Linked DNA regions of Homo sapiens: all the other regions are linked to region 2. The links come from fine-mapping of genetic effects on gene expression. A gene starts in region 2. Each other region holds a variant in brackets. All regions are shown on one strand. Distances are between the middles of the regions. Region 1 holds the start of PLEC (plectin). Region 2 holds the start of PARP10 (poly(ADP-ribose) polymerase family member 10). Region 3 overlaps PLEC (plectin).

Evidence for each region. PIP is the estimated chance that this variant, and not a neighbour inherited with it, causes the effect.
Region 1: its variant is fine-mapped to the expression of PARP10 in ovary (GTEx, PIP 0.98).
Region 3: its variant is fine-mapped to the expression of PARP10 in whole blood (TOPMed, PIP above 0.99).

Annotation. Positions count from the first base shown.
Region 1 is chr8:143,938,738-143,946,901 of GRCh38, reverse strand. PLEC (plectin) reads left to right here and starts at 7,305. Exons shown (of 32, transcript NM_201384.3): 1 at 7,305-7,552. The coding sequence starts at 7,441. MIR661 (microRNA 661) reads left to right here and starts at 1,623; the gene lies at 1,623-1,711. It overlaps LOC124902040 (a long non-coding RNA gene), which reads right to left and starts at 3,038. Exons shown (of 2, transcript XR_007061144.1): 1 at 2,732-3,038; 2 at 1-1,336. RefSeq lists enhancers at 1-193, 3,592-3,841, 6,387-6,681, 6,859-6,918, 7,329-7,568 and silencers at 2,722-2,991, 4,062-4,521, 4,742-4,831, 7,079-7,308, 7,589-7,688. The variant G/T (reference allele first, on the strand shown) is at 3,836.
Region 2 is chr8:143,982,463-143,990,626 of GRCh38, reverse strand. PARP10 (poly(ADP-ribose) polymerase family member 10) reads left to right here and starts at 4,167. Exons shown (of 11, transcript NM_032789.5): 1 at 4,167-4,269; 2 at 4,394-4,572; 3 at 4,652-4,906; 4 at 4,979-5,215; 5 at 5,299-6,083; 6 at 6,196-6,417; 7 at 6,523-6,619; 8 at 6,816-7,460; 9 at 7,562-7,695. The coding sequence starts at 4,268. GRINA (glutamate ionotropic receptor NMDA type subunit associated protein 1) reads right to left here and starts at 571. Exons shown (of 7, transcript NM_001009184.2): 1 at 428-571. RefSeq lists silencers at 1-119, 140-639 and enhancers at 3,491-4,394, 4,065-4,504.
Region 3 is chr8:143,917,068-143,925,231 of GRCh38, reverse strand. PLEC (plectin) reads left to right here. Exons shown (of 32, transcript NM_201384.3): 31 at 1-2,728; 32 at 2,837-8,164. Among named protein-coding and RNA genes, the nearest start is that of PLEC, 18 kb to the left of the region's middle. The variant C/T (reference allele first, on the strand shown) is at 3,461.

The DNA of each region.
Region 1 (8,164 bases), 44 kb after region 2:
CAGGTGGAGGAAGAGACCACCTTTGGGGCTGAGGAATGTGAGTCTCAAGGAGTGGGGTGTGGTGGGCAGTTTGGGGCTCTGCTCCCGCCTGGCTCCTGAAATACCGCTGGGCACATGGATGCCTGGAATGTGGGTGGGAGGGTGGGAGGGCAGGGCTGGGCTGGTGGGGCCTGCAGCGGGAAGGGGAGGCTACAGGGTGGGGTCTGCTGGGCGGGGGGTCTGCTGGGCGGGGCAGGAACAGTAGGGAAGACCCGTGGGCTGGGGCCGGAGGGCTCTCTGGGATTGCAGGCAGGCCAGTCCCCTGCACCCCCAGGCAGGTCTGCTGGGCTGGTCTGACCCGTCAGTCGGCTGGGCTTCATCTCTGCTTACTGACTAAGGGGTGGCTGCGAGGAGGAGCCGCTGCTACCAGGGCATGAGTGGGCCCTCCCTCTGCCTCCCACCCCTTCCCTCCTTCCTGCCTCGCCTTCCTCCCTGCCGGCTCTCGGAGCAGCCTGGCCTGTGTGGCAGCCATGGACAGGTACAGCATGGAGGAGCTGATTCAGCTGGGCCAAGGTAGGGCAGGCAGAGCTGGGGGCTGTGGGAGGCAGAGGAGAGGGCCGGGGCCGCCTCTGGCAGACCTGTCTCTTCCCGTTGTCCACCGTTCTGTGCCGTCAGACCTGGGATGCAGGGATAGGCACAGCCCCCTCTCGGAGCTGCCCCAGGGGTGTGTGTGATGTGTGTCCCGGAAGCACAGGCCTGTCCGGACCTCCGTGGAGTGGTAGAAGAACTGCCCGCTGCCAGCCTGGGGCACTCCTCCCGCCAGGAGCTGGTTCTCACCCAGGCCATTGAGTCAGGCTCCTCTGAGGCTTCCCCAGCACGTGGCAGGGAGTGGGCTGAAACGTCCGGCCTGTCGGCCCCTGCCCACTGCTGGCCAGATGCTGTCCTGGGCTCAGCTGGGAGTTGGGCCCTTTCTGGCATGCCTGGGTATCCCTGACCCTCAGGGCTGCCTGGGCCCGCCCGACCCCTGGCCGCCCAGAGTGGGCCACTGCAGGCATTTCCCTCGGCCGCACGTTTTTGAGGTGTGGGGCTGGAGAGCAGGAGGCTGGGGTGGGCCCGGCCCTCTTGTTGTCCGCGGGCTTCCCAGCATGGACCTGGGTGGCCTGCCCAGTGGCCCGGGGCCAGGCTGGTTCACTGTGCCTTGCTGTGGGCTGAGGTAACTACACTGGAGGCCACCTGGGCTCAGATGGCAGCGTGCGGGACAGCAGGCGGCGCCTCAGGCTCCTGGTCTGTATGAGGCCTTCATGGTATAGGACTTCATGGGGTTTGCTGAGGGTTCCATGTGGTGCCAGGAGCGACGCTGTGGAATGGGGTATACCGTCAACGTGCATTCTCCTGGGCCTGAGGGGTGCGCCCAGCAGACAGGGGTCCCAGGAAGAGGAGCAGGACTGTGCGTGTCCCACGTCCTGTTTCCCCGGCTGCATTGGGATCTGATCTGCATAGGATATGCTGTGGGCCTGCCTGTGGCCCGGCTCTCTGACCCAGGCCTTCCACAGAGCAGGGCTTCGGGACTCCTGGGTGGAGCCAGGCCAGTCTCCTGCCGTGGCCCAGGAGAGGCGTCTCCATCCCAGATCCCTGGGACCCCAGGAGAGGCTGTGCTGTGGGGCAGGCGCAGGCCTGAGCCCTGGTTTCGGGCTGCCTGGGTCTCTGGCCTGCGCGTGACTTTGGGGTGGCTGTCCCGGCCACCGGTGGGGCCAGGTGCTGTGTTGAGTGACCTGCGCAGGGCCCTCTGGGAGAATGGGCGGCCTCTTCTCTTGGCCCCTGTGGCCTTTCCAAGAGCACCCCCTGGCTTGGCAGGGCAGGTGGGTGGGGACTGCACCGCCTCCTGCAGGGACGTGAGCCCGCACCTCCCGCGCCCTGCTCTATTATATTAGAACCCCCTGTGGGAGCTGGGGGACCGAGGTGTCGGGTGGCACCGTCCAGCCAGACCTGACTGCAGCGGGGCCTGGGTGCCCTGGCGCCGTGCGTCATGTTCCAAGTCTGGGTGGTGACGGTCCTTGCGCGCCCTCCTCGGATATTTATATCCCCTGGGCCCCTGCCCACTGCTCCCCTCCCCCACAAGCTGCTGCTGACAGCAGCACGGCCGTGCCCTCCTCCCACCCGACGCTGCCGCCAGTGGCTTGTGCCTCCTCCGAGGGGCCTGTGACCTCCCACACCCCTGGCCCGCTCCGTCTGCCCCGTGGGCTCCTGCCACCGTCCCCGATGAAGATCGTGCCCGGTAGGTGGGCAGCCCTTGAAAGCCTTGTGAAATCCTGGCCCCTTGCTGGGGACAGGGGCCAGAGGGCTGGGGCTGAGGCTGGAGGCCAGGGGCGCTGTCCCTCGCCCTGCACACAGCCTGCCTCATGTGCCCTCACCCAGACCCCCTCAGCCCTGGTCTGCAGTCTCACTTTTGGGGTGTTGGGGCTGGTGAGGAGGGCGAAGTTGAAGGAGTGCAGTGGGTTCAGCTGCAGGCTTGAGGTGGGGGCTCTGGCATCCCTCCATGCCTGCCAGCTGTCCCCAGAGGGCAGCCTTGGAGGCAGAGTGGGCTGCTCGGGCCCCTCTTCTGGTGGGGACAGCAGGGGGAGGCTGGGAGGGAGGGAGGGTGTGTGCCGAGGCCGCGGGCAGTGCTGGGGGGCTGCGGCTTGGCCAGGCGTGCGGCTGGCCCCTCCTCCCGGCGGGTGTGGCCGCGGGGACGCAGGGGTTAAGGCCAACTAACCTTGAGCGTCAGTAGCCCTGCGCAGGGACAGCTGAGCCGGCCGGGTGGGGAGCGAGGGTGGGGAGGCGCCGAGGGCCGGACCCGCGGAGGGAGGAGGAGAGGAGGCGGGCGGGAGCTGTTGTGGGGCTGCCGCCGCGTATGGGGCGGTCCTGCGGGCAGGGCAGGCTCCGGTCCCGGCGCTCCCCCTCGCTCGCCCTGCACGCAGGGAGGGGGCTGTCTAGCCTGGAGCAGCCGGTTCCCAGCGCAGGAAGGGCAGCCCTGGCGGCTCCGCGTGGCGGCTATGGAGCCCTCGGGCAGCCTGTTTCCCTCCCTGGTGGTTGTGGGTCACGTTGTCACCCTGGCCGCTGTGTGGCACTGGCGCAGGGGACGTCGGTGGGCGCAGGACGAGCAAGGTAAGCCCCGCTGGTGGCTGCCAGGGACTCGAGGCGGGGCAGAGGGGCCGCCTGCCTCCCGCCCCTTCATTCCCTGCGCCCTCCCCTTCCTGTTTCCAAGCTGAATGTCAGTGAAAGCAGTGTTGCCCCTCCACCCCACCCTGCAGTGTAGACCCTGACCCTGCTGCAGTCCCAGGGCGGGGCGGGCTCTGCAGTGGCCCTCAGCCTGCAGCCTGTGCGGGACAGGTGGGTGGAAGCGGAGGCCGGCAGGGCAGGAGCGTCCCCCACACGAAGGGAGGCCTGTGGCAGCCGCCGTGGCAGGGACAAGTGGGCAGGTGCCTGTCCGGCCAGCACTGAGGTGGAGGTGGCTCCCTGCACACACAGCAGGGGGTGGAGCCACACGCAGGTGAGGCAGGTGCCCTCATGCCCTCGGGCCGCACAGGGGGCGGGGGCAGCCAGGCTGTGCCCTGCCCTCCCTGCTCAAAGTCACCAGCTCCTGGGCTGTGGTCCCAGGTGGCAACCGTGCCCAGCACAGGATGGGGCGGGGCCCTGGGGATTGGGCAGCCTCAATTATGGGCTTCTGGCCAGAGGGACTGCCTATCGGGGACCTGGCTGGCCAGACCTCTCCTGCAGTGAGGGCGCTGCCTGGCTCAGCTCCTCTGCTGGATCCCCGGACTTGAGATGAGTCAAGATGGGGCTTCTAGGCGTGGCGCTGGGGACGCCCGGAGCTGCC[G/T]GGGACTCAGCTGCCAGGATGGGACTTGGGCTGAGGGCTTCTTCCCCATCCATGTTTTTGGCTGGGGACCAGACACTGTCCCTGCCTCCCCACCTCAGCCCACAATTGCCCCCTTCGGCCACGGTCCTGGCTCACAGGATGCCTCTACTCCCTGGTGGTGCCAGACGCGGCTCAGCTCCTCGGTTCTGCCTCCAGCGTTGTCTGCCCACCACCTGGCCCCATGCCCTGCCTTCCTCCCTGGGCCCTGCAGTCCCCACCGCACATCCTGCTGGGAGGCCCCCTCCCATGCCGCTTCAGTCCCAGGGCAGCCTCCCAGCCCGGCCCGTGGGTTGGGGCGCGGCTTCCTGGCTGCGCTGGGCGGGGCTGCGCGCCAGGGGCAGGTTCTTTGGGTCTGGGCCTCGCTCCCGCAGTGGGCGGATTGTGGGGGGGAGGTGGAAGAGGTGGAGAGCGAAGCCGGCAGCCTCGCAGCGTGGGCTGGAAGCAGAGGCGCCGCCGCGGTCCAGCTCCCCGCACTGTCCGTGGGCCGAACCAGGGCTCCGGCCGTGGCCGGCATGTCGGGGGCGGGGGGCGCCTTTGCCTCGCCGAGGGAGGTCTTGCTGGAGCGGCCGTGCTGGCTGGACGGGGGCTGCGAGCCGGCCCGCAGGGGCTACCTCTACCAGCAGCTGTGCTGCGTAGGTGGGTGCAGTGGCGTGGCCGGTGGCACAGAAGGGGCCACCATCGCTCTCACCTAGTGGGGCTGGGTCTCTGCTGGGAACCGCCGCCTGGGCTGGGATGGGGGTGGCGCCTTGGCCCGGTGCAGCCTTGCCCCCGAGCTCCGGAAACACCTGGGGAGGAAGGCGGGGTGATGTTCCCCTACCCCCATTTGTTTGTCTCTAGAGAAGGGGCTGGAGGGGGCGGGGCTGGAGGGGGCGGGGCTGGCCCACCCCCGGCTGTTCCACGTCAGCCTGGGCTTTGGCCTGGGTTTCCAGGACACGGGGGAGGGAGGAGGTGCTGAAGGCGGGGCTCCAGGCCTTCTGTGGACTTGCTGCAGTCCTGGGCCAGTGGGATTCCCTTCCCAGTCTTGGGGTTTCCATCCTAGGACCGTCTCCACTAGCTGCGGGACCTCAGCCATAGGGTCCACACCTGTAAAACGGGGGCGATACTCCTCAGAGGGCCACGGCAGTGCCTGTCGTGAGGGACCCTGGGCTGGCGGCCGAGGGTCAGCAGCCCTGGACAGCACAGGTGTCAGGCAGGTGTGCAGAGGCACCTGAGCTGGGGGTGTTCTGGGTGCGTCCCAGGTGGGAGAGCCAGCTGAGCTGCAGCTGTAGAGGGTGGGTGTAGCCTGGCTGGGTGGGGCGGGTGTGTCTGTTGGTTTTAGGGTCAGAATAGGATTGGATGGGGCGGGGCAGGCTGGGCTGGGAGGGAGGGGAGGTGATGAGGAGGGAAGAGCTCAGAGCAAAGAGGCACCCAGAGGCAGGAAGTAGGGAAGGGGAGCTTGAGCCAGGCTTGGGAGGTGGAGGCCCCTGACCGAGCCCCCAGCCCACCTGGTCCCAGCCCTGCCCCGCCCCAGCCCTTCTCCTCACCCGGTCCCAGCCTTGCCCGAGTCCGTGTCTGGAGTCCCCACCGTGCCCCTTCCCTTCCCTGAGCCCCTGCCCCATTCCTGACCCTGGCCCGGCCCAGGGCGGCATCTTTGGAGGCCTGTTAGTGGCAGGGAGAAGGCTGGAACAGGGGCCTGGCTGGGGTGGGCTCCACGTGGGTCCTGGACCTTGGCCCCGGCTCCCAGTTTCCAGCTGTCGTGGACTCCCTGTGCCCACCTCCCTGGCTGTTCCGGGATCTCACACTGTGCCTCAGCAGAGTGGCAGCCCCGTTCCTGCAGGCAGGAGCCACCTGGTCACGGCCGGGCCCCCAGAGCCCATACCCAGCAGGCGCGGGGCTTGGCCTCAGGGTAGCTGCTGGCCCAGGGCTTCTGAAGAGGCGACAGTGTTTCCAGAGGCTTTGGACCCAGGGAGGGGCGGCAGAGGTGTGGGGTCCGGGGTGCCCTTGGGCACAAGACTGGAGGTGCTGACCAGTGCGGGGTCAGATTTTGATTTGGGGGCTTCTGGTGACTCCTGAGGTTCTGGAGGCTGCTGGGCCGGACAGGCAGAGCAAGAGGGTCACCCTGAATCTCATGCCAGGCTCAGAGACCATGCATGGAGACCAAGGGGTGTCTTCGTTGGGCGGCGTGTACGATGTGGCAGAGCCCTAGGGGCTGGCTGTGCCCCTTGGCGTGGAGTGGGGGCTTCCCCACCTCTGAGGGGTTTGGGCACCCCCCATTGTGAGGGTTCTGGTGCCCCCTCACGGCCTCAGGGGCAGTAGGAATGAGGTGGGGTGAGCTCTTCCCAGAACTGAGGCCGAGTGCAGCTCCCAGCTGGACCGAATCTGCCTGATGTGCGGCTGGAACATTCTTGTGGTTGGGGCAGCGCATTCTTTCCTATGGTGGTCGGGTGGGCTGGGCAGGCCCAGAAGCTGGCCAGAGGCAGCTCCGCCCCGGACCCCAGGGAGCCGGAGGCCCCAGCCAGCGCAGGCCCTTTGCCCTTTGCCCTTTACAGCATGAGACTGCTTCCCTTGAGCCCCACCCAGCTGCAAACAGCACCCCCCACCCCTGGGGTCGCCCAGGTCCTGCCTCAGGTGTGGCTTCCCCTCTGTGAGTCACAGGCTTGGGCCCCCTCCCCATCCCTGACTCACTGGCGAGGCCCCTCCTGGGGCTTCCCGATGCTCCATTCCCCCATGAGGCCCGGCCTCCGTGAGTCAGCCCTCAGCTACGCGCCTCCGACGTGAGGTGTCTGCCTGGGGCAGGGTGGGCTCCGCAGGTGGGCACTGCTCCAGGATGTGCCAGGTGGGCAGCTTGGGAGGGGCCAGGCCTGGGGTGGGACCCCACTGGCCCCAGGGCCAGGGCAGGCACCATGGGGCAGGGTGTGCTCCCCGCTTCATGCAGGTCTGTGAAGAGGTGTGATTGGGGGGCTGCAAGAGCTGACAGGCAGCAGGTCCCCTCCCCTCGCCAGGTATCAGCGGCTTCTTGAGTCCGCCCTGGCAGGGTGGGTGGGCAGAGGCTGAAGCAGGGCCTGGCCCAGGCCTGGAGGGAGCTCCAAAGAGAGGCGTGGCCTCAGAGCCCCTCCCGTCGGGGGAGCCCTTCAGTCTGTTGGGGGGTCCTTCTGGGTGGCTGTGGGGACGGCCTGTGTTCCTCTGCGGTCCTGGCACCATTTGGTGTGCAGTGAAGTGCCAGCTCCCCGTGTCCCCAGGTCCCCCTAGGGGGCTGCAGTGGTCGGGGTGGGTGAGGAAACCCCGGTTTCCTGTTTCTGGCGGGCCGAGGGCGTGTCTGTGGGGGAGGGGGCTGCTTGCTCCTTCCCGCCGGGACACTCCCCTCCCTGGCGGCGGCCTGGGCAGGGTGGGGCCTCGGGGGCGGGCCGGCCTCGCCGGGGAGTACAGCAGGCAGGGAGTGGCCGCACCGACTGGGGCTCTGAGCTGAGCCTGTGCCGAGTGAGCGTCTCGTGGGGCCGCCAGCCTTCAGCTGCCTGTGTGCCACACGGGGCTGCCCAGAGCACCGTGCCTGAGGCCGAGGGTCCGGGCGACGAAGGTGTGGGGGCAGCATGTCTCAGCACCAGCTCCGCGTGCCGCAGCCCGAGGGCCTGGGCCGAAAGAGAACCAGCTCGGAGGACAACCTGTACCTGGCTGTGCTCAGGGCCTCTGAGGGCAAGAAAGGTAGCAGGGCTCCCCTCGGGCACCCCCGCCAGGCAGGGCGGGCCCCTGCGGGAGGAAGGCCCACTTCCTGTGGCAGGAAAGCCTTGGCACCGCTGGGGGGCTGGTCTTGGAGATGGGGGTCGGGGGCCAGCCATCCCCACCCAACACGGAGTGGGCCGACAGGCGCCCGCGAGGCTGACGGGGGCCTCCGAGCGTCAGATGTCGGGCCTGGAAGGGCGAGGAACTCTGCGCTCTGGGGAAGGTTCGCTGCCCTGTCAGCAGCACACGCGGCTTCCCTTCCAACACCCCAGCGGGCCCGGGCCCTGGCTCTGCCACACCCCTGCTTGGGTCTCAGTCTGTAGAGGCCGGGGGGGACTGCAGGACGGGACTTGTGTGCCCTGGGCTCAGGGTGCGCCCAGGACCCTCCCATTTCCTCGGGGGAAGAGTCCGGGGTGGGGTGGCTGCACCTGGTGGCGCCTGGGCCCCTGGCACCTGGGTCTCTGCTGTGTGGCTGGGCTGCGGGTGAGGGCGCCTGGGTCTCAGTGTGTGATCTGAGGGAGGCTTTGGGGCTCCCCAGGCAGGACCTGGCCAGCCAGGCTGCTGTGTCTGCACGGTGGTCACCTGAGGGCCCCC
Region 2 (8,164 bases):
CTGCCGGTGCCTGCCAGTGGGGTACGCCGGGAACAGCGGGGTGCGGGGGTGTGTGGGGGATGGAAGCGACCACGGGGCGTGCGGGGAACAAAGCGGGCGTGGGGCGAGGCGGGTAGGGGCTGCGGCCGTGGCACTGGCACCGAGAGCGGATGGGCCCTCCGCGGGCCGGGGGCGCACAGGGTCACGGGTCCAGCAGTCGCCGCAGCGCGCCGCCCCCTCCCTCCGGCTCCAGGCCGCCGCGGCTCCCCGCCCCCACCACCGCCGCCACCTCTGGCCGCGAGCTGCCGCGCGCCCCGGCCGGACCAACTTACTGACCCGAGGCGGCCACGCTCGGATGCGCAAGATCCGCGTGGGGGCGGGGGCGGGGGCGGCAGGCCGCGCGGCGCAGCGGGTCAGAGGCGCTCCTGGGCTCGGGCCGGGGACTCACCGGTGGCCGGGCGCCGCAGGCCGGTACGCACGGTGTCCGCTGCGCGGCCGCGCGGTGATGGCCGATGCGCCCGCACCCGCACCCGCTCGGCGGCCGCTCAGCTGGGCCTGCGCCTGCGGCTCGGAAGACGCAGCGGGGCCTTGTGACGGGGCGGGGCAGGGGGCGGGGCCGGGCGAGCTTCGGGGTGGGAGGGGCAGGTGGGCGGGGCTTCCGCGGACCCCTCCCGCTGCGCCGCCTTGCGTGTTCCTCTTCGCTCCGGCCAGAGGCCCGCCTCTCACTGTCTGCCGAGGGGTGGGGTCGGGCGGTGGGCGCTGAAGACCCCTGGAGGCAGAAGTCTGGTCTGGCCAATTTGACTGGCCGTTCGGTAGTTAAGAAATTTATTCCTAAATGCGGGATTTGCTGAAGCTGCCCGGGACTGACCGTCCGTTCTCGGCCTTAAAACCCGACGTTCACTTCTTTTCATCCAGATCTCTCCCAAATCAAGAAGCCTAATCCTTTAGTTCCCAAATCGAGGCCTCGTGGTTTAATTGCCCCATTTGCTCTGTCAGCCCAAACTCTGCCAGGCCTGCTACTAGAGACCCTTTTTTATTTTTTTAATTCTTGTGGATACATAGTAGGTGTATATTTACGGGCTACATGGGATGTTTTGATACAGGCATGCCATGGATAATAATCACATCAAGGTAAATGGGGTATCCATCAGCTCAGGCATTTTGTCCTTCGTGTTACAAACAATCCAGTTATACTCTTGGAGTTGTTTTAAAATGTACAATTATTCTTGACCACAGTCACCCTTTGTACTAACAAATACGATGTCTTGTTTTCACACTAGAGACCCTGAACGCTCGCTTGTCTGCCTAACGTCCTCACAAGCTGCGAGGGGCTGAGGCTTGGGGATGCAGCAGGACTGGAGGCCAGGCCACCTCCCTGCTTAGCTCCCAAGTCCTCTTGGGGGAGCAGTGACTGACACAGGCAGGGTACATCCTGCTGCCAGCCTTCCCACCCGGGGCCCAGACCCCACCTGCCCTCCCGCCCTTGGAGGGCCGGCCTCTCCCAGGCCGCTCTGAGTCCTGCACCTATGGTGCGCTGGCGCAGTGTTTAGCAGCCGGACCTAGTGAGGGGAAGCCTGGGGTGCGTGTTTTGCACATGCGCGTGGTGTGAATACTCCACCGGGGCTGGTTTCAAGTTACCCCCAGCTGGACAACCAGTCCACAGAAATTCCCGAAACTGTACCAGTCTGCTTGTGGTGTGAGTGGTGCCTGTGGCAGGCCCTCTGCAGCCAGGGTCGGCGTAATGGATAACCTGTGATGAGTTCCATTAGAGAAAACGTGGAAAAAGCAGGGATGGATTTACCCTTGTAGAAGGTAACTTCTACCTTTGTAGAAGCAGAAGCTCACAAAATTTGAGAGACCTTTAAGAAAAATAAAATGCTTGCTGGGCGCGGTGGCTTACGCCTGTAATCCCAGCACTTTGGGAGGCCGAGGCGGGTGGATCACAAGGTCAGGAGATGGAGACCATCCTGGCTAACACGGTGAAACCCCGTCTCTACTAAAAATACAAAAAAAAATTAGCTGGGCGTGGTGGTGTGCACCTGTAATCCCAGCTATTGGGGGGGCTGAGGCAGGAGAATGGCTTGAACCTGGGAGGCAGAGGTTACAGTGAGCTGAGATCGTGCCACCGCACTCCAGCCTGCGTAACAGAGTGTGACTCTGTCTCAAAAAATAAATAAATAAGTAAATAAAAATAAAATAGCTGGGTATGGTGGCTGGCACCAGTAATCCCAGCACTTTGGGAGGCTGAGGCAGGTGGATCATCTGAGGTCAGGAGTTTGAGACCAGTCTGCCCAATAGGGTGAAACCCTGTCTCTGCTAAAAATACAAAAATTAGCTGGGCATGGTGGTGCGTGCCTGTAATCCCAGCTACTTGGGAGGCTTAGGCAGGAGAATCCCTTGAACCCAGTGGGTGGACGTTGCAGTGAGCCGAGATCACGGCACTTCACTCCAGCCTGGGTGAAAGGGCGAAACTCCGTCTCAGAAAAAAAAAAAAAAAAGGCAGAGTAAGGGAGATCATGCCAGAGGGGTGGCCATGGGGGTTTGTGGGGAAGGTAGGGCCAAGCAGAGGGAAGGGCCAGTCCCAGGCTACTGAGGCAGGAGTGGCCTGTAGCTCTGCAGGAAGAGCTGAGAGCCTGGAGCCCTCTGAGCATCAGGGTGTGCAGGGGGCATGGGGCCAGAGAAGGGACTGAGGTCTGGTCAGGTGCAGCTGGGCAGGGGGCAGGTCCTCAAAAGGACTTTGGGTTTTTGTTTTTTTTTTAGACAGAGTCTCACTCTATCACCTTGGTTGGAGTGCAGTGGCACGATCTCAGCTCACTGCAACCTCCACCTCCCAGGTTCAAGCTATTCTCCTGACTCAGCCTCCTGAGTAGCTGAGATTATAGGCACCTGCCACCATGCCCGGCTAATTTTTATATTTTTAGTAGAGACAGGGTTTTACCATGTTGGCCAGGCTGATCTCAAACTCCTGACCTCGTGATCCACCTGCCTCAGTCTCCCAAAGTGCTGGGATTACAGGCATGAGCCACTGCGCCCGGCCCCCAGGACTTTGGTTTCTACTGTTGCTGATGCTGGGAGCTGTAGCAGCTGCTGGTGTCATTTTACAAGGCTCACCCTGACACCTCTGTTGAGGACCCACCATGGGAGTGGCAGACAGAGACTAGTTAAGAGGTTAGCCTAGCTACCTAGCGAGAGATGCTGGAGGCTGGGACCAGGGTCGGGGCAGCAGAGGTGTGGCATGTGCAGGGCTAGGAGTGCAGGCTGGCCAGGGTCCTCAGCTCCCTGGAGGGAGGAACAGCAGGGGTGGGGCTGGGTTTTGGTGGGCTGAGGGGTGAGTGGGAAGTAGGAGATGGAGAGTGGTAGTGGCCACAGCTCTTTGAAAGGCTGGAAGCAAACGGAGCTTGGGTGATGTGGGAGATCTGTGGCGAGTGGGAGTGTGGACTCTGAAGGCACCGCCCAGGTTTGAGGCCTGGTGCTGCTATGGGCCTGTCTGCACCTCCGTTTCCCTTTCTGTGGTGAGGATTAGCGGCAGCAAGGAATGCAGTGGAGCCATTACCTTGTCACCTTCTGAGGTTACTTGTGACGATGCCAATGATGGTGTGAGATGGGGAGGTGCAGGCAGGACAGAAAGCTGCAGGAATGGGCAGGCAAGACCTGAGGCGGGAGGAAGGCTGTGCTGCAATGCACATTCTTGGAGACCAAGGGTGGGGAACCGCCCATGCTCAGCACCTGGCAGGTGTGAGGGACCAGGAGCAGGGTTGAGAAGGTTGCTGGGGGCGTTGAAGGCCAGCCTTGGCCGGGGGCGGGCCTGGAGACCCAGCACTTTGTGTGCAGAGGGTGTCATGGACACAGAGGCTTGGAGATCCTGAGTGAGGGGCAGTGACTCAGGCCCCTTGGTGGGTTTAGTGGGGCGGGTGATTGGCCATTTTCAGGCCATGGAGGCCAGGGGAGTGGAGGGCCACCAGGGGACACTCCTGTCTACCCTGCCAACCAGGGGCTGGAGTGGGCCAGGTAGGGCCGGTGGGCTGGGCTGGGTTGGCTGGAGGGTCCTGAGGGGTCCAGCCTGGCCAATACCTCCTGGTCAGCTGGGGGTTGAGGCTGCAGCAGGAGAGGAAGCATCTGAGCCCCAGTACCCAGGCCTCAGCGCCCAGGGCCCAGCTGCTCCCTCCCTCCTTCCGTCTTTCAGTTTCACTTTTGTTTTCCTGCTCCCAGCAGGGTTAGGCTTGCTGAGGGGCAGGCACAGGAGTCCTGGCTGAGCTCATGGCCTGAGGCTGCCTAGCGGCCACGGGGAATGTAAGTGCTGTATGTGGGGCCACCCATAATGGGGGAGCATTGAGGACACACCTTGGAGGGGCCTGGGGAGGGGCAGGAGGGGTGGAATGGGCTGTTTCCCTACCCACCTGATGCCCCGTCCCAGGGTTGCAATGGCGGAGGCAGAGGCAGGGGTGGCAGTGGAGGTCCGTGGACTGCCCCCTGCCGTGCCCGACGAGCTGCTCACTCTCTACTTTGAAAACCGCCGACGCTCTGGAGGGGGACCTGTGTTGAGCTGGCAGAGACTGGGCTGTGGGGGCGTCCTCACCTTCAGAGAGCCTGCAGGTGAGAGGGCTGGCTGAAGGGACAGCCTGGGTGCCCTGATATTCTAATGCCTGACATCCTGCCCCGCCCCTGCCCACAGACGCCGAGAGGGTCTTGGCCCAGGCAGATCACGAACTACATGGTGCCCAGCTGAGCCTGCGGCCAGCTCCACCACGAGCCCCTGCACGCCTGCTGCTCCAAGGACTGCCCCCTGGCACCACGCCCCAGCGCTTGGAGCAGCATGTCCAGGCCTTGCTGCGGGCCTCGGGGCTCCCAGTACAGCCTTGCTGTGCCTTGGCCAGCCCCCGGCCAGACCGGGCTCTGGTCCAGTTGCCCAAGCCCCTTTCTGAGGCAGGTGAGAGGCAGGGTTGGGGTTGAGGTGCTGGCTAGGGGGGATTCCCTGAGCTGACCTGCACATACCCCACAGATGTCCGTGTCCTGGAGGAGCAGGCCCAGAATCTGGGCCTGGAGGGGACCTTGGTGTCCCTGGCCCGGGTTCCCCAGGCCCGAGCGGTGCGTGTGGTGGGGGATGGTGCCTCTGTGGACCTGCTGTTGCTGGAGTTGTACCTGGAGAATGAGCGCCGCAGTGGTGGGGGGCCCCTGGAGGACCTGCAACGCCTACCCGGGCCCCTGGGCACTGTTGCCTCCTTCCAGCAGTGGCAAGGTGAGTGGGGCTGGGCAGACCCAGCCGACCGTCCCTCTCCTGCAGAAATCTGACAGGCTTTCTGTCCTTTCCCTTCCTCCAAGTGGCAGAACGAGTGTTGCAGCAGGAGCACCGGTTGCAGGGCTCAGAGCTGAGCCTTGTCCCCCACTACGACATCCTGGAGCCCGAGGAGCTGGCTGAGAACACCAGTGGAGGGGACCACCCGTCCACCCAGGGGCCTAGGGCTACCAAGCATGCTCTCCTGAGGACCGGAGGGTTGGTGACGGCTCTGCAGGGTGCAGGGACTGTGACAATGGGCTCTGGCGAGGAACCAGGGCAGTCAGGGGCCTCTCTGAGGACAGGTCCCATGGTGCAGGGTAGAGGGATTATGACAACAGGCTCTGGCCAGGAACCAGGGCAGTCAGGGACCTCTCTGAGGACAGGTCCCATGGGGTCTCTGGGACAGGCAGAGCAAGTCAGCTCGATGCCCATGGGGTCTCTGGAACATGAGGGGCTGGTAAGCCTGAGGCCTGTGGGGTTGCAGGAACAGGAGGGGCCCATGAGCCTGGGGCCTGTGGGGTCTGCAGGCCCAGTGGAGACCTCTAAGGGGTTGCTGGGGCAGGAGGGCCTGGTGGAAATTGCCATGGACTCACCAGAGCAAGAGGGGCTGGTGGGTCCCATGGAGATCACCATGGGGTCTCTGGAGAAGGCAGGGCCTGTGAGCCCAGGATGTGTGAAGCTGGCAGGGCAGGAGGGCCTGGTGGAGATGGTGCTATTGATGGAGCCAGGGGCGATGCGCTTCCTGCAGCTCTACCATGAGGACCTTCTTGCGGGCCTGGGAGACGTCGCTCTCTTGCCACTTGAAGGACCGGATATGACTGGCTTTCGGGTGAGTGACCCCTCAGGACTCCTCACCTTCAGCCCCCTCCTCCTACTGGGGACTCAAAGTACCTTTCCTGTGCTCTAAACCTGCAAACTCCATCTCTGCAATGGCCCTGCAGCTCTGTGGAGCCCAGGCTTCCTGCCAGGCGGCTGAGGAGTTTCTGCGGAGCCTGCTGGGCAGCATTAGCTGCCATGTGTTGTGCCTGGAGCACCCGGGCAGCGCCAGGTTTCTCCTGGGCCCAGAAGGGCAGCACCTTCTCCAGGGGCTGGAGGCTCAGTTCCAGTGTGTCTTTGGGACAGAGCGCCTGGCCACAGCCACGTTGGACACAGGCCTTGAAGAGGTAGAGATGGAGTCCCACCCCTGCCCTCCCCTTTCTCACGCCTCTGCCCCAGGCCTCCTCTGCCCTTGCCCAGAGGCTAGTGGTCCTGACATCCTCTCCCTACAGGTGGACCCTACCGAGGCCCTCCCAGTGCTCCCTGGCAACGCCCACACCCTGTGGACCCCAGACAGTACAGGTGGTGACCAGGAGGACGTGAGCCTGGGTAGGGCTCCCTGGGAGCCCTCAGCACATCCTGTGGCCCTCACTTGACCTCACCCCCTGCCCTGCTCTGTGCTCCCATCTGTCTACTGACCCATCTTAGGCCCACCCTGTACCCTAAAAACTTGCTCCCCATCTTTCATCCATTCCAACTCCTCCTGGGTCCAGCCCCTGACCCAATGGCCTCTCCCTGCCCCCAGAGGAGGTCCGAGAACTGCTGGCCACCCTGGAGGGCCTAGACCTAGACGGGGAGGACTGGCTGCCTCGGGAGCTGGAGGAGGAAGGGCCTCAGGAGCAGCCAGAGGAGGAGGTGACCCCAGGGCATGAGGAGGAGGAGCCTGTGGCCCCCAGCACTGTGGCACCCAGGTGGCTGGAGGAGGAGGCCGCTCTGCAGCTGGCCCTCCACCGGTCACTGGAGCCTCAAGGTCAGGTGGCTGAGCAGGAGGAGGCTGCTGCCCTGCGGCAAGCCCTAACCCTCTCCCTGCTGGAGCAGCCCCCGTTGGAGGCAGAAGAGCCCCCAGATGGGGGGACTGATGGCAAGGCCCAGCTGGTGGTGCACTCGGCCTTTGAGCAGGATGTGGAGGAGCTGGACCGGGCGCTCAGGGCTGCCTTGGAGGTCCACGTCCAGGAGGAGACGGTGGGGCCCTGGCGCCGCACACTGCCTGCAGAGCTGCGTGCTCGCCTGGAGCGGTGCCATGGTGTGAGTGTTGCCCTGCGTGGTGACTGCACCATCCTCCGTGGCTTCGGGGCCCACCCTGCCCGTGCTGCCCGCCACTTGGTGGCACTTCTGGCTGGCCCCTGGGATCAGAGTTTGGCCTTTCCCTTGGCAGCTTCAGGCCCTACCTGTGAGTCTACCTCCTGGACTGAGGGACGGTGGGGTGGGCTGGTTAGCAGGGGCTAGTGCCCCAGGCATGGCTCTGACCCCCCGCTTTTCCCCATGCATCAGTGGCGGGGCAGACGCTGAAGGGGCCCTGGAACAACCTGGAGCGTCTGGCAGAGAACACCGGGGAGTTCCAGGAGGTGGTGCGGGCCTTCTACGACACCCTGGACGCTGCCCGCAGCAGCATCCGCGTCGTTCGTGTGAGTCCATGCCCTGTCTCTCTGGCCTCATGGCGTCCTGGGCTCTTGCACCATTAGCGCCTTGCCAAGTCTGTGGCCTGTCCCTCTCGCCTACATCAAGGTCAGCTGACCAGGAGCTGACAGGCTCCCAGCCCTGTTCTCTGCCCAGAGGGCGTTCCCAAAGTGGGTAGGGAAACAGGAGGGAACAGAGTGGGGGCCTTGGGATCTGATAGGCCTGAGTGAGGGTCCCCACTCTGCCACTCGTGGCTGGGTCAGCAGGGACTATGGGACCAGCTCCAGGCCTCAGTTTCCTTATTTGGAGCATGGGGCGGTGATGCCATCTTGTGGTCATTTTGAGGATTACTCGCTCCACAGATGCGTCCCTTGTGCTGTTCTGGGCGCTCTTCTGCCTCCACAGAAAGGCCCGGGCTCGCTGCGGTCACTGTGCTGATGACACTGCGCGGGGCACTCTCTTTTTTGAGACGGCATC
Region 3 (8,164 bases), 65 kb after region 2:
CCTGGAGACGGCGCAGCGCAGTGCAGAGGCGGAGCTGCAGAGCAAACGCGCCTCCTTCGCCGAGAAGACGGCACAGCTGGAGCGCTCCCTGCAGGAGGAACACGTGGCTGTGGCACAGCTGCGGGAGGAGGCTGAGCGGCGGGCACAGCAGCAGGCCGAGGCCGAGCGGGCGCGCGAGGAGGCAGAGCGGGAGCTGGAGCGCTGGCAGCTCAAGGCCAACGAGGCGCTACGGCTGCGGCTGCAGGCGGAGGAGGTGGCGCAGCAGAAGAGCCTGGCGCAGGCCGAGGCTGAGAAGCAGAAGGAGGAGGCGGAGCGCGAGGCGCGGCGGCGCGGCAAGGCGGAGGAGCAGGCCGTCCGGCAGCGGGAGCTGGCTGAACAAGAGCTGGAGAAGCAGCGGCAGCTGGCGGAAGGCACCGCGCAGCAGCGCCTGGCCGCGGAGCAGGAGTTGATCCGGCTGCGGGCCGAGACGGAGCAGGGGGAGCAGCAGCGGCAGCTGCTGGAGGAGGAGCTGGCCCGGCTGCAGCGTGAGGCGGCTGCAGCCACGCAGAAACGGCAGGAGCTGGAAGCCGAGCTGGCCAAGGTGCGGGCCGAGATGGAGGTGCTGCTGGCCAGCAAGGCGAGGGCTGAGGAGGAGTCGCGCTCCACCAGCGAGAAGTCCAAGCAGAGGCTGGAGGCCGAGGCCGGCCGGTTCCGCGAGCTGGCCGAGGAGGCCGCCCGCCTGCGTGCCCTGGCGGAAGAGGCCAAGCGGCAGCGGCAGCTGGCCGAGGAAGACGCGGCGCGGCAGCGGGCCGAGGCGGAGCGGGTGCTTGCGGAGAAGCTGGCCGCCATCGGCGAGGCCACGCGGCTCAAGACGGAGGCGGAGATCGCGCTCAAGGAGAAGGAGGCGGAGAACGAGCGCCTGCGGCGGCTGGCGGAGGACGAGGCCTTCCAGCGGCGGCGGCTGGAGGAGCAGGCCGCGCAACACAAGGCTGACATCGAGGAGCGCCTGGCCCAGCTGCGCAAGGCATCGGACAGCGAGCTGGAGCGGCAGAAGGGGCTGGTGGAGGACACGCTGAGGCAGCGGCGGCAGGTGGAGGAGGAGATCCTGGCGCTGAAGGCGAGCTTCGAGAAGGCGGCCGCTGGCAAGGCGGAGCTGGAGCTGGAGCTGGGACGCATCCGCAGCAACGCGGAGGACACGCTGCGCAGCAAGGAGCAGGCCGAGCTGGAGGCTGCGAGGCAGCGGCAGCTGGCGGCGGAGGAGGAGCGGCGGCGCCGTGAGGCTGAGGAGCGCGTGCAGAAGAGCCTGGCGGCCGAGGAGGAGGCCGCACGGCAGCGGAAGGCGGCGCTGGAGGAAGTCGAGCGGCTGAAAGCCAAGGTGGAGGAGGCGCGGCGCCTGCGGGAGCGAGCGGAGCAGGAGTCGGCGCGGCAGCTGCAGCTGGCCCAGGAGGCCGCCCAGAAGCGGCTGCAGGCGGAAGAGAAGGCACACGCCTTCGCGGTGCAGCAGAAGGAGCAGGAGCTACAGCAGACGCTGCAGCAGGAGCAGAGCGTGCTGGACCAGCTGCGCGGCGAGGCGGAGGCGGCCCGGCGGGCGGCTGAGGAGGCGGAGGAGGCCCGGGTGCAGGCGGAGCGTGAGGCGGCGCAGTCCCGGCGGCAGGTGGAAGAGGCCGAGCGGCTGAAGCAGTCGGCAGAGGAGCAGGCACAGGCCCGGGCTCAGGCACAGGCGGCTGCAGAGAAGCTGCGCAAGGAGGCCGAGCAAGAGGCGGCGCGGCGGGCACAGGCGGAGCAGGCGGCCCTGCGGCAGAAGCAGGCAGCTGACGCGGAGATGGAGAAGCATAAGAAATTCGCCGAGCAGACGCTGCGGCAGAAGGCGCAGGTGGAGCAGGAGCTGACAACACTGCGGCTGCAGCTGGAGGAGACCGACCACCAGAAGAACCTGCTGGACGAGGAGCTGCAGCGGCTGAAGGCGGAGGCCACGGAGGCCGCACGCCAGCGCAGCCAGGTGGAGGAGGAGCTCTTCTCGGTGCGCGTGCAGATGGAGGAGCTGAGCAAGCTCAAGGCACGCATCGAGGCTGAGAACCGCGCACTCATCTTGCGTGACAAGGACAATACGCAGCGCTTCCTGCAGGAGGAGGCTGAGAAGATGAAGCAGGTGGCGGAGGAGGCCGCGCGGCTGAGTGTGGCGGCCCAAGAGGCTGCGCGACTGCGGCAGCTGGCAGAGGAGGACCTGGCACAGCAGCGGGCCTTGGCAGAGAAGATGCTCAAGGAGAAGATGCAGGCGGTGCAGGAGGCCACGCGACTCAAGGCTGAGGCGGAACTGCTGCAGCAGCAGAAGGAGCTTGCGCAGGAGCAGGCGCGGCGGCTGCAGGAGGACAAGGAGCAGATGGCGCAGCAGCTGGCGGAGGAGACGCAGGGCTTCCAGCGGACGCTGGAGGCCGAGCGGCAGCGGCAGCTGGAGATGAGCGCTGAGGCTGAGCGCCTCAAGCTGCGTGTGGCCGAGATGAGCCGAGCCCAGGCCCGCGCTGAGGAGGACGCCCAGCGCTTCCGGAAGCAGGCGGAGGAGATCGGTGAGAAGCTGCACCGCACGGAGCTCGCCACCCAGGAGAAGGTGACCCTGGTGCAGACACTGGAGATCCAGCGACAGCAGAGTGACCATGATGCCGAGCGCCTGCGGGAGGCCATCGCTGAGCTGGAGCGTGAGAAGGAGAAGCTCCAACAGGAGGCCAAACTGCTGCAGCTCAAGTCTGAGGAGGTACCGCCCCCTCTACGTGCGACGGGCGGGTGGGCCCGGGGATCTGCTTTGGTGGGTGATGGGTGCTCCTGGGCTGGCGGTCCCTGATCACACCCTCTTCTTCTGCAGATGCAGACGGTGCAGCAGGAGCAGCTGCTGCAGGAGACGCAGGCCCTGCAGCAAAGCTTCCTCTCTGAAAAGGACAGCCTGCTACAGCGGGAGCGCTTCATCGAGCAGGAGAAGGCCAAGCTGGAGCAGCTCTTCCAGGACGAGGTGGCCAAGGCACAGCAGCTGCGTGAGGAGCAGCAGCGGCAGCAGCAGCAGATGGAGCAGGAACGGCAGCGGCTGGTGGCCAGCATGGAGGAGGCGCGGCGGCGGCAGCATGAGGCCGAGGAGGGCGTGCGGCGCAAGCAGGAGGAGCTGCAGCAGCTGGAGCAGCAGCGGCGGCAGCAGGAGGAGCTGCTGGCTGAGGAGAACCAGAGGCTGCGTGAGCAGCTGCAGCTCCTGGAGGAGCAGCACCGGGCCGCGCTGGCGCACTCAGAGGAGGTCACTGCCTCGCAGGTGGCTGCCACAAAGACCCTGCCCAATGGCCGGGATGCACTTGATGGCCCCGCGGCAGAGGCAGAGCCGGAGCACAGCTTCGATGGCCTGCGGCGGAAGGTGTCAGCTCAGAGGCTGCAGGAGGCCGGCATCCTGAGTGCGGAGGAGCTGCAGCGGTTGGCGCAGGGCCACACCACGGTGGACGAGCTCGCA[C/T]GGCGGGAAGACGTGCGCCACTACCTGCAGGGCCGCAGCAGTATCGCAGGGCTGTTGCTGAAGGCCACCAATGAGAAGCTGAGTGTTTACGCCGCCCTGCAGAGGCAGCTGCTGAGTCCCGGCACGGCCCTCATCCTGCTGGAGGCGCAGGCGGCCTCAGGCTTCCTGCTGGACCCTGTGCGGAACCGGCGGCTGACCGTCAACGAGGCTGTGAAGGAGGGTGTGGTGGGCCCCGAGCTGCACCACAAGCTGCTGTCGGCCGAGCGCGCCGTCACTGGCTACAAGGACCCCTACACTGGCCAGCAGATCTCTCTCTTCCAAGCCATGCAGAAGGGCCTCATCGTCCGGGAGCACGGCATCCGCCTGCTGGAGGCCCAGATCGCCACGGGCGGCGTTATCGACCCCGTGCACAGCCACCGCGTGCCCGTGGACGTGGCCTACCGGCGCGGCTACTTCGACGAGGAGATGAACCGCGTCCTGGCGGACCCCAGCGACGACACCAAGGGCTTCTTTGACCCCAACACGCACGAGAACCTCACGTACCTGCAGCTACTGGAGCGCTGCGTGGAGGACCCCGAGACGGGCCTGTGCCTTCTGCCACTCACGGATAAGGCTGCCAAGGGCGGGGAGCTGGTCTACACTGACTCCGAGGCCCGGGACGTCTTTGAGAAGGCCACCGTGTCTGCGCCGTTCGGCAAGTTCCAGGGCAAGACGGTGACCATTTGGGAGATCATCAACTCGGAATACTTCACGGCAGAGCAGCGGCGGGACCTGCTGCGGCAGTTCCGCACGGGCCGGATCACAGTGGAGAAGATCATCAAGATCATCATCACGGTGGTGGAGGAGCAGGAGCAGAAGGGCCGGCTTTGCTTTGAGGGCCTGCGCAGCCTGGTGCCAGCCGCCGAGCTGCTGGAGAGCAGGGTCATCGACCGCGAGCTCTACCAGCAGCTGCAGCGAGGTGAGCGCTCTGTGCGAGACGTAGCCGAGGTGGACACTGTGCGGCGGGCTCTCCGGGGTGCCAACGTCATCGCGGGTGTATGGCTGGAGGAGGCGGGGCAGAAGCTGAGTATCTACAATGCCCTGAAGAAAGACCTGCTGCCATCCGACATGGCCGTGGCCCTGTTGGAAGCCCAGGCCGGCACCGGGCACATCATCGACCCCGCCACCAGCGCCCGGCTGACCGTGGACGAGGCAGTGCGTGCTGGCCTGGTGGGCCCCGAGTTTCATGAGAAGCTGCTATCAGCCGAGAAGGCTGTGACAGGGTACAGGGACCCCTACACAGGGCAGAGCGTCTCCCTGTTCCAGGCCCTGAAGAAGGGCCTCATTCCCCGGGAGCAGGGCCTGCGCCTGTTGGACGCCCAGCTGTCCACGGGCGGCATCGTGGACCCCAGCAAGAGCCACCGCGTGCCCCTGGATGTCGCCTGCGCCCGAGGCTGCCTGGATGAGGAGACCAGCAGGGCCCTGTCGGCACCAAGGGCCGACGCCAAGGCCTACAGTGACCCCAGCACAGGGGAGCCGGCCACCTACGGCGAGCTCCAGCAGCGGTGCCGGCCCGACCAGCTGACCGGGCTGAGCCTGCTGCCGCTCTCAGAAAAGGCTGCTCGGGCCCGGCAGGAGGAGCTCTACTCAGAGCTGCAGGCCCGTGAGACCTTTGAAAAGACCCCGGTTGAGGTCCCCGTGGGTGGCTTCAAGGGCAGGACGGTGACGGTGTGGGAGCTCATCAGCTCTGAGTACTTCACTGCGGAGCAGCGGCAGGAGCTGTTGCGTCAGTTCCGCACGGGCAAGGTCACCGTGGAGAAGGTCATCAAGATTCTCATTACCATCGTGGAGGAGGTGGAGACCCTGCGGCAGGAGAGGCTGTCCTTCAGCGGCCTCCGTGCCCCTGTGCCAGCCAGCGAGCTCCTGGCTTCCGGGGTCCTCAGCAGAGCCCAGTTTGAGCAGCTCAAGGACGGCAAGACGACGGTCAAGGACCTTTCGGAGCTGGGCTCCGTGCGGACGCTGCTGCAGGGCAGTGGCTGCCTCGCCGGCATCTACCTGGAGGACACCAAGGAGAAGGTGTCCATCTACGAGGCCATGCGCCGGGGCCTGCTGAGAGCCACAACGGCTGCGCTCCTGCTGGAGGCGCAGGCGGCCACTGGCTTCCTGGTGGACCCCGTGCGGAACCAGCGCCTGTATGTCCACGAGGCCGTGAAGGCGGGCGTGGTGGGCCCCGAGCTTCACGAGCAGCTGCTGTCTGCCGAGAAGGCCGTCACCGGCTACAGAGACCCCTACTCGGGCAGCACCATCTCCCTCTTCCAGGCCATGCAGAAGGGCCTGGTTCTCCGGCAGCACGGCATCCGCCTGCTGGAGGCCCAGATCGCCACGGGCGGCATCATCGACCCCGTGCACAGCCACCGCGTGCCTGTGGACGTGGCCTACCAGCGCGGCTACTTCAGTGAGGAGATGAACCGCGTCCTGGCGGACCCCAGCGACGACACCAAGGGCTTCTTTGACCCCAACACGCATGAGAACCTCACGTACAGGCAGCTGCTGGAGCGGTGCGTGGAGGACCCCGAGACGGGCTTGCGCCTTCTGCCACTGAAAGGGGCGGAGAAGGCTGAGGTGGTGGAGACCACGCAGGTGTACACTGAGGAGGAGACAAGAAGGGCATTTGAAGAGACACAGATCGACATTCCCGGCGGCGGCAGCCACGGCGGCTCCACCATGTCCCTGTGGGAGGTGATGCAGTCGGACCTGATCCCCGAGGAGCAGCGGGCCCAGCTGATGGCTGACTTCCAGGCCGGCCGGGTGACCAAGGAACGCATGATCATCATCATCATCGAGATCATTGAGAAGACAGAGATCATCCGCCAGCAGGGTCTGGCCTCCTACGACTACGTGCGCCGCCGCCTCACGGCTGAGGACCTGTTCGAGGCTCGGATCATCTCTCTCGAGACCTACAACCTGCTCCGGGAGGGCACCAGGAGCCTCCGTGAGGCTCTCGAGGCGGAGTCCGCCTGGTGCTACCTCTATGGCACGGGCTCCGTGGCTGGTGTCTACCTGCCCGGTTCCAGGCAGACACTGAGCATCTACCAGGCTCTCAAGAAAGGGCTGCTGAGTGCCGAGGTGGCCCGCCTGCTGCTGGAGGCACAGGCAGCCACAGGCTTCCTGCTGGACCCGGTGAAGGGGGAGCGGCTGACTGTGGATGAGGCTGTGCGGAAGGGCCTCGTGGGGCCCGAGCTGCACGACCGCCTGCTCTCGGCTGAGCGGGCGGTCACCGGCTACCGTGACCCCTACACCGAGCAGACCATCTCGCTCTTCCAGGCCATGAAGAAGGAGCTGATCCCTACTGAGGAGGCCCTGCGGCTGCTGGATGCCCAGCTGGCCACCGGCGGCATCGTGGACCCCCGCCTGGGCTTCCACCTTCCCCTGGAGGTGGCTTACCAGCGTGGCTACCTCAACAAGGACACGCACGACCAGCTGTCAGAGCCCAGCGAGGTGCGCAGCTACGTGGACCCGTCCACCGACGAGCGCCTCAGCTACACGCAGCTGCTCAGGCGGTGCCGTCGTGACGACGGCACCGGCCAGCTGCTCCTGCCACTGTCGGACGCCCGCAAGCTGACCTTCCGTGGCCTGCGGAAGCAGATCACCATGGAGGAGCTGGTGCGCTCGCAGGTCATGGACGAGGCCACGGCGCTGCAGCTGCGGGAGGGCCTGACCTCCATCGAGGAGGTCACCAAGAACTTGCAGAAGTTCCTGGAAGGCACCAGCTGCATCGCTGGTGTCTTCGTGGACGCCACCAAGGAACGGCTCTCGGTGTACCAGGCCATGAAGAAGGGCATCATCCGCCCCGGCACAGCCTTTGAGCTCCTGGAGGCGCAGGCGGCCACCGGTTACGTCATCGACCCCATCAAGGGACTGAAGCTGACGGTGGAGGAGGCTGTGCGTATGGGCATTGTGGGCCCCGAGTTCAAGGACAAGCTGCTGTCGGCCGAGCGCGCCGTCACTGGGTACAAGGACCCCTACTCTGGGAAGCTCATCTCCCTCTTCCAGGCCATGAAGAAGGGCCTGATCCTGAAGGACCATGGCATCCGCCTGCTGGAGGCCCAGATCGCCACGGGCGGCATCATCGACCCTGAGGAGAGCCACCGGCTGCCCGTGGAGGTGGCCTACAAGCGCGGCCTCTTCGATGAGGAGATGAACGAGATCCTGACCGACCCCTCGGACGACACCAAGGGCTTCTTTGACCCTAACACGGAGGAGAACCTCACCTACCTGCAGCTGATGGAGCGTTGTATCACTGACCCCCAGACGGGCCTGTGTCTCTTGCCGCTGAAGGAGAAGAAGCGGGAGCGGAAGACGTCCTCCAAGTCCTCCGTGCGCAAGCGCCGAGTGGTCATCGTGGACCCCGAGACGGGCAAGGAGATGTCAGTGTACGAGGCCTACCGCAAGGGCCTGATTGACCACCAGACGTACCTGGAGCTGTCCGAGCAGGAGTGCGAGTGGGAGGAGATCACCATCTCCTCCTCGGACGGCGTGGTCAAGTCCATGATCATCGACCGCCGCTCCGGGCGCCAGTACGACATCGATGATGCCATCGCCAAGAACCTCATCGACCGCTCGGCACTGGACCAGTACCGCGCCGGCACGCTCTCCATCACCGAGTTCGCCGACATGCTCTCGGGCAACGCCGGTGGTTTCCGCTCCCGTTCCTCCTCGGTGGGA